2 linked regions of the Homo sapiens genome follow. The protein of the gene in region 2 purifies or fractionates together with the protein of the main gene of each other region. This does not show direct contact. Each region holds a gene or a part of one and is shown on either strand. Other genes may lie near its edges. The genes, in order: MAP3K20 and ZNF227.

Region 1 (7,629 bases), on a different chromosome or scaffold from region 2:
GGGTGAGTATCTTGTCTATCTAAATGTAGTAGGAACAGTTAAGGCACCTTTTGGTCTTACTGCAAGGAAGATTTAGGCTAGTTTTTTGGTAGCTATTAACTTTGCCCCACTAGACACAAATAAGCAGAGTTCCAGCTGTGACCAGAAAATTGTACCTGGTAAGGGAAGAGGACTATGAATGCTAGAGCTTAGATTGATTCGACTGATACATGGGTGCTTTTATGTCAGACCCTCCTACGGATGCTGAAGCATCGTCCTAATAGCTGTTAAGTAATCCCAGCACAGTAGAAGAATCTGTGAGAACAAAGCAGCCCCACATTTGACACCCTAACCCCAGTGTCTTCAATTGTAATAGGAAATTAAAGCCTCAAATTGAACTTTAGGTGGATGGTGAGCAATCCAGTAATTACTGTAATAAGAAAATAGTTTAAATAGGGTAAACAAAAGGCAAATTAGAAGGAGGAGGCAGAATGTTATTAACAAAAAGACATGATATGGTAGAAAACAATGATATGACTTTGGAGTCAGGCCTGAATTTGACACAAGTTGTGTCACCTGTAAGGTAGTTGGCTTGAGCTACTTTCATACCCCTGATCCTCAGTTTTCTCACTCATGTAAGTTAGGAACAGTAGTACCTGCTTCCTAAGGATAAGTACAGTCATGTGTCCATTAATGATGGGGATACGTTCTGAGAGAACTGTGTTGTTACGTGATGTTGTAGTTGTGTAAATACCACAGCGTGCACCTACACAAACCTAGATGCTATAGCCTACTACACACCTAGGCTGTGTGAGATAGTCCGTTGCTCCTAGGCTACAGACCTATGTAGCATGCTGCTATACTGAATAGGCAGTTGTAACACAGTAATAAGTATTTCTATCGAAAAATAGAAAAGGCACAGTAAAAATACAGTATAAAATATACAGTATCAAAGATAAAAAATGGTACACCCGTATAGGGCATTTACCATGAATGGAGGTTGCAGGACTGGAAGTTGTTTGGGGCAAGTCAGTGAGTGAGTGGTGAGGGAATGTGAAGGCCCAGGACATCACTGTACACTACTGTAGACTTTATAAACACTGTACACTTAGGCTCTACTAGATTTATTTAAACATTTTTCTTCAATAATAAATTAACCTTAGCTTGCTGTAACTTTCTTGTTTTATAAACTTTAAACTTTTTTTTAACTTTTTGAGTCTTTTGAAATAACACTTAGCTTAAAACACAAACACATTGTACAGCTATACAAAAATTCTTTATATCCTTATTCTGTAAGATTTTTTTTCTATTTTTAAATTTAAAAAAAAATTTGTTTTGCTTCTTAAACTTTGTTAAAAACTAAGACAGAAACACACACATCAGCCTAGCCCCACATGGGGTTAGGATCGTCAATATCACTGTTTTCTACCTCCACATCTTGGCTCACTGGAAGGTCTTCAGGGGCAGTAATGTATATGGAGCTGCCATCTCCCCATCTCCAGTGATAACAATGCCTTCTTCTGGACACCTCCTGAAGGACCTGCCTCAGTTAATTTTCTTTTTTTTTTTTTTAAGTGGAAAGAGTATGCTCTAAAATGAGGATAAAAAGTATAGTAAATACATAAATGAGTAACACAGTCATTATCCTTATCAAGCATTGTGCACTGTACATAATTGTATGTGCCGTACCTTTATACAGCTGGCAGCATAATAAGTTTGTTTACACCAGCATCACCACAAACACATGAGTAATGCATTGTGCTATGATGTTAGGAAACTGTGCCATCACTCAGCAATAGGAATTTTTCAGCTTTATTACAATCTTATGGGATCGCTGTTATATATGCAGTCCATTGTTGACTAAAGCATAGTTATGTGGTGCATGACTTTATGAGAAAGCACATAGAAATGCTTGTAACAGTGCCTGAAATTTCAGCCACTGTATCAATGTGGTAAAGAAGGATGTTTTACTACATCTCTCAAGTTATACGCAGAGCTGCTTGCCCACTGTCCTAGTCTGTTTTCTGCTGCTAGAGCAGTCTGTCACAGCCTGGGTAATTTACAAGGAACAAGGGTAATTTATTTGGCTCATGGTTCTGGAGCCTGGGAAGTCCAGGTACATGGCTCTGGCATCTGGCGAGAATCACCCATTGTGGAAGGGTGGAAGGCGAAAGCAAGCCATGAAAGACAAAGAGAAAAAGTGAACTCCTGAGATAATTAACCTACTCCCAGGATAACAGTGAGAATCCATTTATGACCTAATCACCTCTTAAAGGTTCTGCTTCCCAGTACTGTTACATTAGCGATTAAGTAATTAAGTTTCAACATGAATTTTGGTGGGAGCATTCCTACCATAGCACTCAGCTCTTCCAGCTAAGGCTTGCCTTTGGTACCCTGTCCTGTTCCCAAGTTATACTTATGTAGTGGGTATGTAGGTTTTCATAACTACTCTCCTGCTTTGAGTATAAGTGTTTCTAAAGTGTGCTTTAGAACCACTTGGAACCATTTTTATAGCTAATTTTGAGCAAGGCCCCAATACCCTTCTTTCTGGACTCATCTCCAGGCTTCCATTTAAGAAAACCAAAAAGAAAAGGAAAGAATTGCTGTCTGCACGTCATGTAATAAATCTTTACTTATTAAACTTTTCTACCAAAGTACTCTATTGTGGGGATAAATGAATGTTTTCCTTCAAGAATTTGTCCGTATAGCCACAGATACCCCAATGCAAGCAAGTACTTGCTTTAAAATTTTATATTTAATCTTAAAAATTTATGTGGATTTTGCATTCTCTTCTGTCCTACACTGTTTTACTTAAATTGAACAAATCGATACAGACACATATTTTAAAAAAGACAAATTTTTTTTTTTTTTTTTTTTAGAAACAGAGTCTTGCTATGTTGTCCAGGCTGGCCTTGAACTCCTGTGCTCTAGCAATCCTCCCACCTGAACTTTCCCTGTAGCTGGGGCTGAGGGTATGTGCTACCTTGCCTGGCTTATTCCCCATAGTGTTAAAGTGAAATTGATGCTGTAGGACAGCTGTTTATTCATATCACCTTCTGCACAGTACTGTGTAATACCACGTATGGGAATAAGCACACGAGGAACATGGGATTGGTCCTAATAAAGAGTCCTGCACCATTAAGCTCTGCAGCCCAATACTGCATGGGGTAGTGCAATTCCATTTTGCTGATAAAAGAATAGGGGTAGATCATCATCCAAAGAGTTTTGATGTTAGGTGGTTATACGATGGCTTTCAAGACAAAGAGATCTCTTTGCTTTGGGAATTGGGGGGAAGGAAGAGGAAAGTTTTAGGATAGAAACCTGGAATGTGGCTCTTAGCTTCTCACCCAGTTTGGGAGGAGAAATTGAAGAAGATGGCCAAATCGTTTCCTTTATTTCCATCACTGATGTGGTTCACTGTGCTTCTCCATGATGTTTGGTGTCGGGTTCATGACTGCTTCCCTCAGAAAAGGAGGGAGACCGTCTATACTTTATAGTAGATTAGTCATCAACTCAACAGGGTTGGAGTGGGTCTTAAAGTGGTTTCATTCTGCCCTCTTAGCTGATGCAAGAGTCTCCCACTCCCACTCTACACCGCATATCCCATTGAACGCTCTTGGTGATGGGTCACTCACTACTAAAGAGGGTGGCAGATTTTCTTGTTGGCCAACTCTAAACCAGGAATCCTTTGTTTTTTTTTTGGAGACAGGGTCTCACTTTGTGCAGTGGCATAATCATAGCTTATGGCAACCTTGAACTCTTGGGCCCAAGCTATCCTCCCACCTCAGTCTCTTGAGTAGCAGGGACTACAGGCATGAACCACCACACCTGGCTAATTTTTATTTATTCATTTTTTGTACAGATGGGATCTCACTATGCTGCCCAAGTTGGTCTTAAATGCCTGACCTCAAGCGATACTCCCACTTTGGCCTCCCAAAGAACCAGAAATTCTTTCTGTAACTTTCATCCACAGATAGCCTTGCCTCTTGATCATCAAAACATAATATAAGGTCTTAGTCTTCCCTAGTTTTACCATCCCCATTCCTTTCACCCTTCATCTTACATTGAGGTTACCATGTTTTAACTCTTGCATTCACCCTTCTCAGGGAGTATTCATTCCAGGCACTCAGTCCAAAGTTGTACCTGTCTGTCAGCAGCCAGGATGGTCTGATACTTTCTATTTGACAGAAAACGATTTGGGGTACAAACAAGGGCTGAGTAGCAGCAAGACCTAGGGTGGGGGCAGGATAGGTGGGAGGTAGCGAACTGAAGTGAGCCTTGTTTACTCATAGGCTACGGCTTTCTCCTCATCCCCAGTCCTGACACCTGTGAATTCCTCTTCTGGCCAAGCCCTAGAAATCTCCCCTCTCCGTGCACCCTCACTTTATTCAACTCTGGCCCCATTCTCTTCCTCATGCTGCAAGAAGCTCCCAGCTACTCAACACAACAAGCCCACGCAGCGGCCTATGCCGTGGCCGTAGGTTGTATCCACTTCATGTTTCCTTGTTGGGCTTCTGTTTGAGCACAGACATGTTTCCACGCAGCATTTCTGTGGCGTTAAGTGCTCCCACCAACTACATTCCTGTGCCTCCCATCTTTTACTTCTGGTAACAATACTTTTGGTAAGGAAGTGTGTTGTGGAAGTTGACTTTTATTAAATTACTTTAATTATTTCAATAAGAATGCCTCACTACTAAATTACTTTAATATTTCAATAAGAATGTTTAGCTTATTTTTATTCTTACCATTGCTCTAACTAGAGAGTTACATTACTTTTATATGGTAAAGATAGAGGAAGGGGGAAAATATGAAACAATGGCTATTCTGTTTTTTGGATTCTTATTTAAAGTTGGGTTCTCTCAGATATCTATGCCTGAAGTCCTATTTACTGAACCCAACCTACTCTGTATAAGATACACTATTTTTCTAGGAGCAGCCTTGGAGGAAGAAAGGAAATATCTGGTAGATACAGTACAAGTTGGTTCTGTTCCTATACCTAGTCTTGCAACTTTTATTTTTTTATTTTTTATTTTTTTTTTTTGAGACAGAGTCTCACTGTCACCCAGGCTGGAGTGCAGTGGCGTAATCATAGCTCACTGCAGCCTCGACCTCCTGGGCTCAAGCGATCCTCCTGCCTCAGCCTTGCAGAGTGCTGGGATTACAGGTGTGAGCCACTGTACCCAGCCAGCTTTTATCTTTTTTAGTGATTAAAAAAAAATAGTAGAACAGCAGTCCTGTTGAGGAATAGAATCTTTGAATCTTTGACCTTGGTGTTACGGACAAATACACTGAACCAGAGCTTTCCTCATTTTTTTGAAGATAAGACTCAGGGGAAAAAAATTGCAGAACAGTGATTCCAAGTGGTGTTCTTTTTATACACATGATGACAAAGCACATATTATTAATTTATTCACTGATCTATGTTAAAGAGGCTGAAATAATACTAGCATAAATATCAAGGCAGCAAGTTTGGCAAAATAATTTGCTGAATATTGAAAGCTCTTTTCAAAAAGTATCTTTTTTGTCACATCCAGGTCATGATAAAACGTGTAAGTTTTTCTTCCTATATTGTATAAAAAGTAAACTGGCAACCTTACTTTTTGAAGAAGGGGGAAAGGAAAGTATGAATTAGGGACAGGAAAAGAGGAAGGCTCTAAATTCAGAAATATAGGCCCATATAAAACCACAAGATAGAAACATCCAGAGAAAGTTCAAAGACCTTTTTTCTAGTAAAGTTAATCCTTTCATAAAGTAGGTTTTTATTTTTACTTTTAGAAATGAGATCTCCCTATGTTGCCCCAGCTGAGCTCAAGTGATCCTCCAACCTCTGCTTCCCAAAATGCTGGGATTGCAGGTGTGAGCCACTGTGCCCGGCCAAAGTAGATTTAATTTTTTTTAAAAAATCATCACTTGCAGGTATTGGATAATCAGGTTAAGTTTTCTTGGGTTAGACGTGCAATTGACTGTGCAGCAGATAATGTCTGAAAGAAGACCGTGGTCACTGGGGAAGGAGGGGATGCTCCAGCACCCTACCAAAGTGAGTGCTATCATTGAATAAATAGATCTTAGCAATGCTAATGTCCAAAAAGTGCAAAAAAAAAAAAAGAAAAGTATTGTGTTTTAGCAATTTAAATACATTATGAAAAAAGCTTAAAAGAAATTATAATTACTTACTAATAAGATCTTTCAGAAATGACAAAAACCAAAAACGGCAGTTAAACAGAGGAATGAGAAAGAATTAGAAAATAGGCAAAGAGAGGGAAAGGATTCAGGGATCAATAGCACCTTTATTTGTTAATAATTGCTCTACAAAACTAAGAGATATAATATAAAACAATTCTGAAAATGGGGAGAGGAAAGCTATTGAGAGCATACCTGACCATAAAAACTGAAGGAATAGATGGCTAAATATGATATCAAGGGTTATTAAAATAATGAGAAAACCATAATTTCCATTAATTGCATGTATACCATATACTAGGCACTGTGCTCACGTATGCACTTTCACAGCACTGGTATTATTGCCAGTGAGAACAGTGAGGTCAGAGAGACACAGTGCCTTGCCCAAGTAGCTAATAACAGATCTGCTCATAGATCTCTCTAGTAGGGGTCTTTACCCTGAATCATGCTACTTCCCTGTTGAAATATCTCTTATTTGGAAGTGAGATGTATCAATGAAGTCAAATACTATGCAAACTTGATAACTTTGGGGCTATCAGTTTTGTGACATTGAATGGAAAAGATTTGAAATTTTTTATTTATGCATCTGGAAATGCCACAGTCTGAGAAAAAGTGATTTGTTAAAGTTACCGAGAGGTGGAGGGAGAGTTCAAACTCCTATCAATCTAATTCTAAAACCTTGCTTTTTAACATTAGAACTGTAGTGGGGTCATTTTTGTTTTTAATTTGGGGCAAAAGTAACAGTGAAAAGGTAAATGACTTATTTGAGGTCAACATGGATCTGAAAAATCAAGAAGCAAAATAGAAGGTCTGTGAATAGAGAAACTTAAGTCTATTTTTTTGGACTAGAAGATTGAAAACTTTAAAAAGTAAAATAATTCTTTAAGATTTCCTACCTTCTTATGTTTCCACTTTTCATAATTAGGTGATGCTGCTATATATGCTTTCAGCAATTTGGTTAATAGTTAAATGTTTTTGAATTTTAATTTAAGGAAAACTTTAAATTAAAAATTTTTTGACATTCTACTCAAGTAGTGAAATGATTGGATTCAACCACCAAATTATTGATTTTCAACATTTACAGAGTTGTGATGCCTTATTTTACTTTGATTTTTGTGACATTTCTGCTCTAACTTACCCTTCAGTATTGTATGGTAGATACTTAACATTTAAAACAGCTTTGAGAGTTTATAAAACAACAGTTAGAATCCTACAAAACTAAAACTGAGCATTGTTGCGTGGAGCAAAATTGCCTTTTTTGTGTAAAAGCAATTTTTTTTTTTTTTTTTTTTTTTTTTTTTGAGATAGAGCCTTGCTCTGTTGTCCAGGCTGGAGTGCAGTGGTGCGATCTTGGCTCACAGTAACCTCTGCCTCTACGGTTCGAGCAATTCTCCTGCCTCAACCTCCCAGGTAGCTGTGATTACAGATGCACGCCACCATGCCTGGCTAATTTTTGCATTTTTAGTAGAG
Region 2 (7,629 bases):
TTATTATTTTATTTATTTATTTTGAGACAGAGTCTCACTCTATCGCCCAGGCTGAAGTGCAATGGCACAATCTCGGCTCACTGCAACCTCTGCCTCCAGGGTTCAAGCAAGTCTCCTGCCTCAGCCTCCCGAGTAGTTGGGATTACAGGCACCTGCCACCACACCCGGCTAATTTTTGCATTTTTAGTAGAGATGGGGTTTCACCATGTTGGCCAGGATGGTCTTGAACTCGTGACCTCAAGTGATCCACCCACCCTGGCCTCCCGTATTGCTGCAATTAAAGGCGTAAGCCACCATGCCCGGCCTCTAGAGTGATTTATTTTAAGATGTTTTAAGATCATGAACTATAATAAGAAATTTAGGTTGTAGCCTAGTTCATATATATATAATATATCTCTCTCTCAAGTTATACTTGGCTAATGTCTGTTTTCATCACATTTGCAATGCTGTATCTCACACCATTCACTGAAAATTGTCAGTTTTTGTTGCAATGTGAGCAGTTCCTGATAAGAAGCTCTGATATTTTCTATCCTTATCTGTTTTATTTCATTGAAAAAAAAGCCAGTACAGTGCACTAAGTTAATGCATTGATGGGTTTCATTTGAAAGACAACGTATTTGAAAGATAAAGCATAGAAGCTAATGTGTCCATTTACGGTTCATTTAAAACAGGGTTTTGCAACTGCAGCACTACTATTTTGGACTGGCCAATTCTCTGTTGGGGGCACTGTCCTGTGCACTGTAGGAGATTTTGCAGAATTCCTGGATACTACCCACAAAATGCCAATAGCACCCCTCTGTCAGGTGTGACAACCATTTCCAGACATTGCCAAATATCTTCTGGGGGCGAAATCACCCATGGTTGAGAACCAGCAATTTAAAAGGACAGAATTTTGCCTGAGCAGAAAGACCAGAAAAACCTATCCTGTTTTCCCAGGGATTAGAAAACCTTTTGTCTTCAAGAGCAAAGAACCATTTTAAAAGGTCCAAACCCTTAAACACCTGAGAGCAAAGAGATTCTCAAGGGAACTGAAGTTCAGGGTCAGAGAGTGCCTGTCCTCACCCACTGCAACCAGGTTCTTGAAGTTCTCCACCATGACATCTCGGTACAGCTTCCTCTGGGTAAGATCGAGCAGTCGCAGTTCCTCCCTGGAGAAGACCACAGCCACATCCTTGAATGTCACAGCCTCCTACAATATCAAACACATGTAACCTCAATCTTACAACCAACCTTCACTAGAAGAAGGGTGGCATCAAGAAGGAAAAGAGCACCACAAAAAAGTTGTTATAGATTCCAAGAGATCTCAGTCAATTTTCAGCTGTTACAGTTTTCCCTGTCTCACTATCTCCTACGCTCATCCCCATAAAGCCTGTAGTTTATCACTGTTTTTTGTTTTTTTCTTTTTTGAGATGGAGTCTCACTCTGTCACCCGTGCTGGAGCAGTGGCGCAATCTCTGCTCACTGCAACCTCCGCCTCCCGGGTTCAAGAGATTCTCCTGCCTTAGCCTCCCAAGTAGGTGGGATTACAGGCGTCTACTACCATGCCCGGCTAATTTTTGTATTTATTTAGTAGAGACGGGGTTTCACCATGTTGGCCAGGCTGGTCTCAAACTCCTGACCTCCAATGATCTGCCCGCCTTGGCCTCCCAAAGTGCTGTGATTATAGGTGTGAGCCACTGAGCCTGGCCCTATCATTGTTTTTAACGTTTGCAAAGTTCACAGGCCTTCAGCAACCCCCTGGACAGGTATATAGCTCTTCCTGTGCTTTCAAGGCACATGTCACATCCACCTACTACAGGATGCACAGCTGCTTAATTTAAAGCACTGGCTCTGGAGTCTGGCCAGGTTCAAATTTCAAGGTTTTGCCTTTTACTAGTTATAGGACCTTGGGCAAATTCCTTAATCTCTCACTAACTGAATTTCCTCTTCTTTATCATTGTATCTAAATTATAAGGTGTATGAGCCTGACACAGAAGGATCACTTCAGCCCAGGAGTTTGACGGTGCAGTGAGCCATGATTGTGCCACTGCACTTCAGCCTGGGCAACAGAGTGAGACCCTGTCTCAATTTTTAAAAATAAATTTTCAGGCTAGGCACAGTGGCTCACACCTGTAATGCCAGCACTTTGGGAGGCCGAGGCGGGCAAATCACTTGAGGCCAGGAGTTTGAGACCAGCCTGGCTAAGATGCTGAAACCCCGTCTCTACTAAAAATACAAAAAAATTAGCCAGGCGTGGTGATGTGCGTCTGTAATCCCAGCTACTCAGGAGGCTGAGGCAGGAGAATCACTTGAACCTGGGAAGCGGAGGTTGCAGTGAGCCAAGATGGCGCCACTGCACTCCAGCCTGGGTGACAGGGGTGAGACACTGTCTTAAAATAAATAAATTTTTAGAATTAAAATAAATAGATCATAAAGTGTTTGAAAGGATCAGATGAATGAATATATGTCAAGCACTTAGAAGTGCCTAGCACACCATACATGCTCAATAAACTCGAACAACGCATATCTTTATCATCTCTTTTGTCCTATTTTGTGACTACATACAACAGGATTCCTTGGAACTGAAGATTTATCTCTAACCAATCCAAATAATGTACAATTAATTACAGATTTTTACTTATAACCAATACTACAAAGATCCTTTTACAGAGCTCATGGCCAAGAAGTAGCAACTGCAAAGTCATAGAATATTTACTTTAAAAGTTTTGAGGGGTGGAGCCAAGATGGCTGAATAGGAACAGCTCCGGTCTACAGCTCCCAGCATGAGCAATGCAGAAGACGGGTGATTTCTGCATTTCCATCTGAGGTACTGGGTTCATCTCACTAGGGAGTGCCAGACAGTGGGCGCAGGGCAGTGGGTGCAGCACACTGGGTGTGAGCCAAAGCAGGGTGAGGCATTGCCTCACTTGGGAAGCACAAGGGGTCAAGGAGTTCCCTTTCCTAGTCAAAGAAAGGGGTGACAGACGGCACCTGGAAAATCAGGTCACTCCCACCCTAATACTGCGCTTTTCCAATGGACTTAAAAAACGGCACACCAGGAGATTATATCCTGCACATGGCTCGGAGGGTCCTACGCCCACAGAGTCTCGCTGATTGCTAGCACAGCAGTCTGAGATCAAACTGCAAGGAGGCAGCGAGGCTGGGGGAGGGCGCCTGCCATTGCCCAGGCTTGATTAGGTAAACAAAGCAGCCTGGAAGCTCGAACTGGGTGGAGCCCACCACAGCTCAAGGAGGCCTGCCTGCCTCTGTAGGCTCCACCTCTAGGGGCAGGGCACAAACAAAAAGACAGCAATAACCTCTGCAGACTTAAATGTCCCTGTCTGACAGCTTTGAACAGAGTAGTGGTTCTCCCAGCATGCAGCTGGAGATCTGAGATCCGGCAGACTGCCTCCTGAAGTGGGTCCTTGACCTCCAAGCAGCCTAACTGGGAGACACCCCCCCAGTAGGGGCAGACTGACACCTCACACAGCTGAGTACTCCTCTGAGACAAAACTTCCAGAGGAACAATCAGGCAGCAGCATTTGCAGATCACCAATATCTGCTGTTCTACAGCCACCGCTGTTCTGCAGCCACCGCTGCTGATACCCAGGCAAAAAGGGTCTGGAGTGGACCTCTAGCAAACTCCAACAGACCTGCAGCTGAGGGTCCTGTCTGTTAGAAGGAACACTAACAAACAGAAAGGACATCCACACCAAAAACCCATCTGTACATCACCAGCATCAAAGACCAAAACTAGATAAAACCATAAAGATGGGGAAAAAACAGAGCAGAAAAACTGGAAACTCTAAAAAGCAGAGCGCCTCTCCTCCTCCAAAGGAATGCAGCTCCTCACCAGCAATGGAACAAAGCTGGATGGAGAATGACTTTGACGAGTTGAGAGAAGGCTTCAGACGATCAAACTACTCCGAGCTTCAGGAGGAAATTCAAACAAATGGCAAAGAAGTTAAAAACTTTGAAAAAAATTTAGACAAATGTATAACTAGAATAACCAATACAGAGAAGTGCTTAAAGGAGCTGATGGAGCTGAAAGCCAAGGCTCGAGAACTACATGAAGAATGCAGAAGCCTCAGGAGCCGATGCGATCAACTGGAAGAAAGGGTATCAGTGATGGAAGATGAAATGAATGAAATGAAGCGAGAACGGAAGTTCAGAGAAAAAAGAATAAAAAGAAACGAACAAAGCCTCCAAGAAATATGGGACTATGTGAAAAGACCAGATCTACGTCTGATTGGTGTACCTGAAAGTGACGGGGAGAATGGAACCAAGTTGGAAACACTCTGCAGGATATTATCCAAGAGAACTTCCCCAATCTAGCAAGGCAGGCCAACATTCAGATTCAGGAAATACAGAGAACGCCACAAAGATACTCCTCGAGAAGAGCAACTCCAAGACACATAATTGTCAGATTCACCAAAGTTGAAATGAAGGAAAAAATGTTAAGGGCAGCCAGAGAGAAAGGTCAGGTTACCCACAAAGGGAAGCCCATCAGACTAACAGCGGATCTCTCGGCAGAAACTCTACAAGCCAGAAGAGAGTGGGGGCCAATATTCAACATTCTTAAAGAAAAGAATTTTCAACCCAGAATTTCATATCCAGCCAAACTAAGCTTCATAAGTGAAGGAGAAATAAAATACTTTACAGACAAGCAAATGCTGAGAGATTTTGTCACCACCAGGCCTGCCCTAAAAGACCTCCTGAAGGAAGCACTAAACATGGAAAGGAACAACCAGTACCAGCCACTGCAAAATCATGCCAAAATGTAAAGACCATCAAGGCTAGGAAGAAACTGCATCAACTAACGAGCAAAATAACCAGCTAACATCAAAATGACAGGACAAAATTCACACATAACAATATTAACTTTAAATGTAAATGGGCTAAATGCACCAATTAAAAGACATAGACTGGCAAATTGGATAAAGAGTCAAGACCCATCAGTGTGCTGTATTCAGGAAACCCATCTCACGTGCAGAGACACACATAGGCTCAAAATAAAAGGATGGAGGAAGATCTACCAAGCAAATGGAAAACAAAAAAAAGGCAGGGGTTGCAATCCTTGTCTCTGATAAAACAGACTTTAAACCAACAAAGATCAAAAGAGACAAAGAAGGCCATTACATAATGGTAAAGGGATCAATTCAACAAGAGCTAACTATCCTAAATATATATGCACCTAATACAGGAGCACCCAGATTGATAAAGCAAGTCCTGAGTGACCTACAAAGAGACTTAGACACCCACACAATAATAATGGGGGACTTTAACACCCCACTGTCAGCATCAGACAGATCAACGAGACAGAAAGTTAACAAGGATACCCAGGAATTGAACTCAGCTCTGCACCAAGTGGACCTAATAGACATCTACAGAACTCTCCACCCCAAATCAACAGAATATACATTTTTTTCAGCACCACACCACAACTATTCCAAAATTGACCACATAGTTGGAAGTAAAGCTCTCCTCAGCAAATGTAAAAGAACAGAAATTATAACAAACTGTCTGTCTCTCAGACCACAGTGTAATCAAACTAGAACTCAGGATTAAGAAACTCACTCAAAACTGCTCAACTACATGGAAACTGAACAACCTGCTCCTGAATGACTACTGGGTATATAACAAAATGAAGGCAGAAATAAAGATGTGTCTTTGTTCTCATTGGTTTCAAAGAACAACATACCAGAATCTCTGGGACGCATTCAAAGCAGTGTGTAGAGGGAAATTTATAGCACTAAATGCCCACAAGAGAAAGCAGGAAAGATCCAAAACTGACACCCTAACATCACAATTAAAAGAACTAGAAAAGCAAGAGCTAACACATTCAAAAGCTAGCAGAAGGCAAGAAATAACTAAAATCAGAGCAGAACTGAAGGAAATAGAGACACAAAAAACCCTTCAAAAAATTAATGAATCCAGGAGCTGGTTTTTTGAAAAGATCAACAAAATTGATAGACCGCTAGCAAGACTAATAAAGAAAAAAAGAGAGAAGAATCAAATAGACCCAATAAAAAATGATAAATGGGATATCACCACTGATCCCACAGAAATACAAACTACCATCAGAGAATACTACAAACACCTCTACGCAAATAAATTAGAAAATCTAGAAGAAATGGATAAATTCCTCAACACATACACCCTCCCAAGACTAAACCAGGAAGAAGTTGAATCTCTGAATAGACCAATAACAGGCTCTGAAATTGTGGCAATAATCAATAGCTTACCAACCAAAAAGAGTCCAGGACCAGATGGATTCACAGCAGAATTCTACCAGAGGTACAAGGAGGAGCTGGTACCATTCCTTCTGAAACTATTCCAATCAATAGAAAAAGAGGGAATCCTCCCTAACTCATTTTATGAGGCTAGCATCATCCTGATACCAAAGCCAGGCAGAGACACAACCAAAAAAGAGAATTTTAGACCAATATCCTTGATGAACATTGATGTAAAAATCCTCAATAAAATACTGGCAAACCAAATCCAGCAGCACATCAAAAAGCTTATCCACCATGATCAAGTGGGCTTCATCCCTGGGATGCAAGGCTGGTTCAACATACGCAAATCAATAAATGTAATACAGCATATAAAGAAACCCAAAGACAAAAACCACATGATTATCTCAATAGATGCAGAAAAGGCCTTTGACAAAATTCAACAACCCTTCATGCTAAAAACTCTCAATAAATTAGGTATTGATGGGACATATCTCAAAATAATAAGAGCTATCTATGACAAACCCACAGCCAATATCATACTGAATGGGCAAAAACTGGAAGCATTCCCTTTGAAAACTGGCACAAGACAGGGGTGCCCTCTCTCACCACTCCTATTCAACATAGTGTTGGAAGTTCTGGCCAGGGCAATCAGGCAGGAGAAGGAAATAAAGGGTATTCAATTAGGAAAAGAGGAAGTCAAATTGTCCCTGTTTGCAGATGACATGATTGTATATCTAGAAAACCCCATTGTCTCAGCCCAAAATCTCCTTAAGCTGATAAGCAACTTCAGCAAAGTCTCAGGATACAAAGTCAATGTACAAAAATCACAAGCATTCTTATACACCAATAACAGACAAACAGAGAGCCAAATCATGAGTGAACTCCCATTCACAATTGCTTCAAAGAGAATAAAATACCTAGGAATCCAACTTACAAGGGATGTGAAGGACCTCTTCAAGGAGAACTACAAACCACTGCTCGATGAAATAAAAGAGGATACAAACAAATGGAAGAACATTCCATGCTCATGGGTAGGAAGAATCAATATCGTGAAAATGTCCATACTGCCCAAGGTAATTTATAGATTCAATGCCATCCCCATCAAGCTACCAATGACTTTCTTCACAGAATAGGAAAAAACTACTGTAAAGTTCATATGGAACCAAAAAAGAGCCCACATCGCCAAGTCAATCCTAGGCCAAAAGAACAAAGCTGGAGGCATCATGCTACCTGACTTCAAACTATACTACAAGGCTACAGTAACCAAAACAGCATGGTACTGGTACCAAAACAGAGATATAGATCAATGGAACAGAACAGAGCCCTCAGAAATAACGCCACAGATCTACAACTATCTGATCTTTGACAAACCTGAGAAAAACAAGCAATGGGGAAAGGATTCCCTATTTAATAA

Evidence for each region.
Region 1: the proteins of ZNF227 (region 2) and MAP3K20 purify together in Homo sapiens (affinity purification with mass spectrometry; 2 studies listed by BioGRID and IntAct, with this or other methods). This does not show direct contact.

Annotation. Positions count from the first base shown.
Region 1 is NC_000002.12:173,078,354-173,085,982, forward strand, and holds part of MAP3K20 (mitogen-activated protein kinase kinase kinase 20), read left to right. Parts: intron 1-7,629. UniProt on the Homo sapiens protein: Stress-activated component of a protein kinase signal transduction cascade that promotes programmed cell death in response to various stress, such as ribosomal stress, osmotic shock and ionizing radiation.
Region 2 is NC_000019.10:44,222,006-44,229,634, reverse strand, and holds part of ZNF227 (zinc finger protein 227), read right to left. Parts: intron 2,504-7,629; exon of another isoform or gene 1,190-2,503; coding exon 1,063-1,189; exon of another isoform or gene 672-1,062; intron 1-671. UniProt on the Homo sapiens protein: May be involved in transcriptional regulation.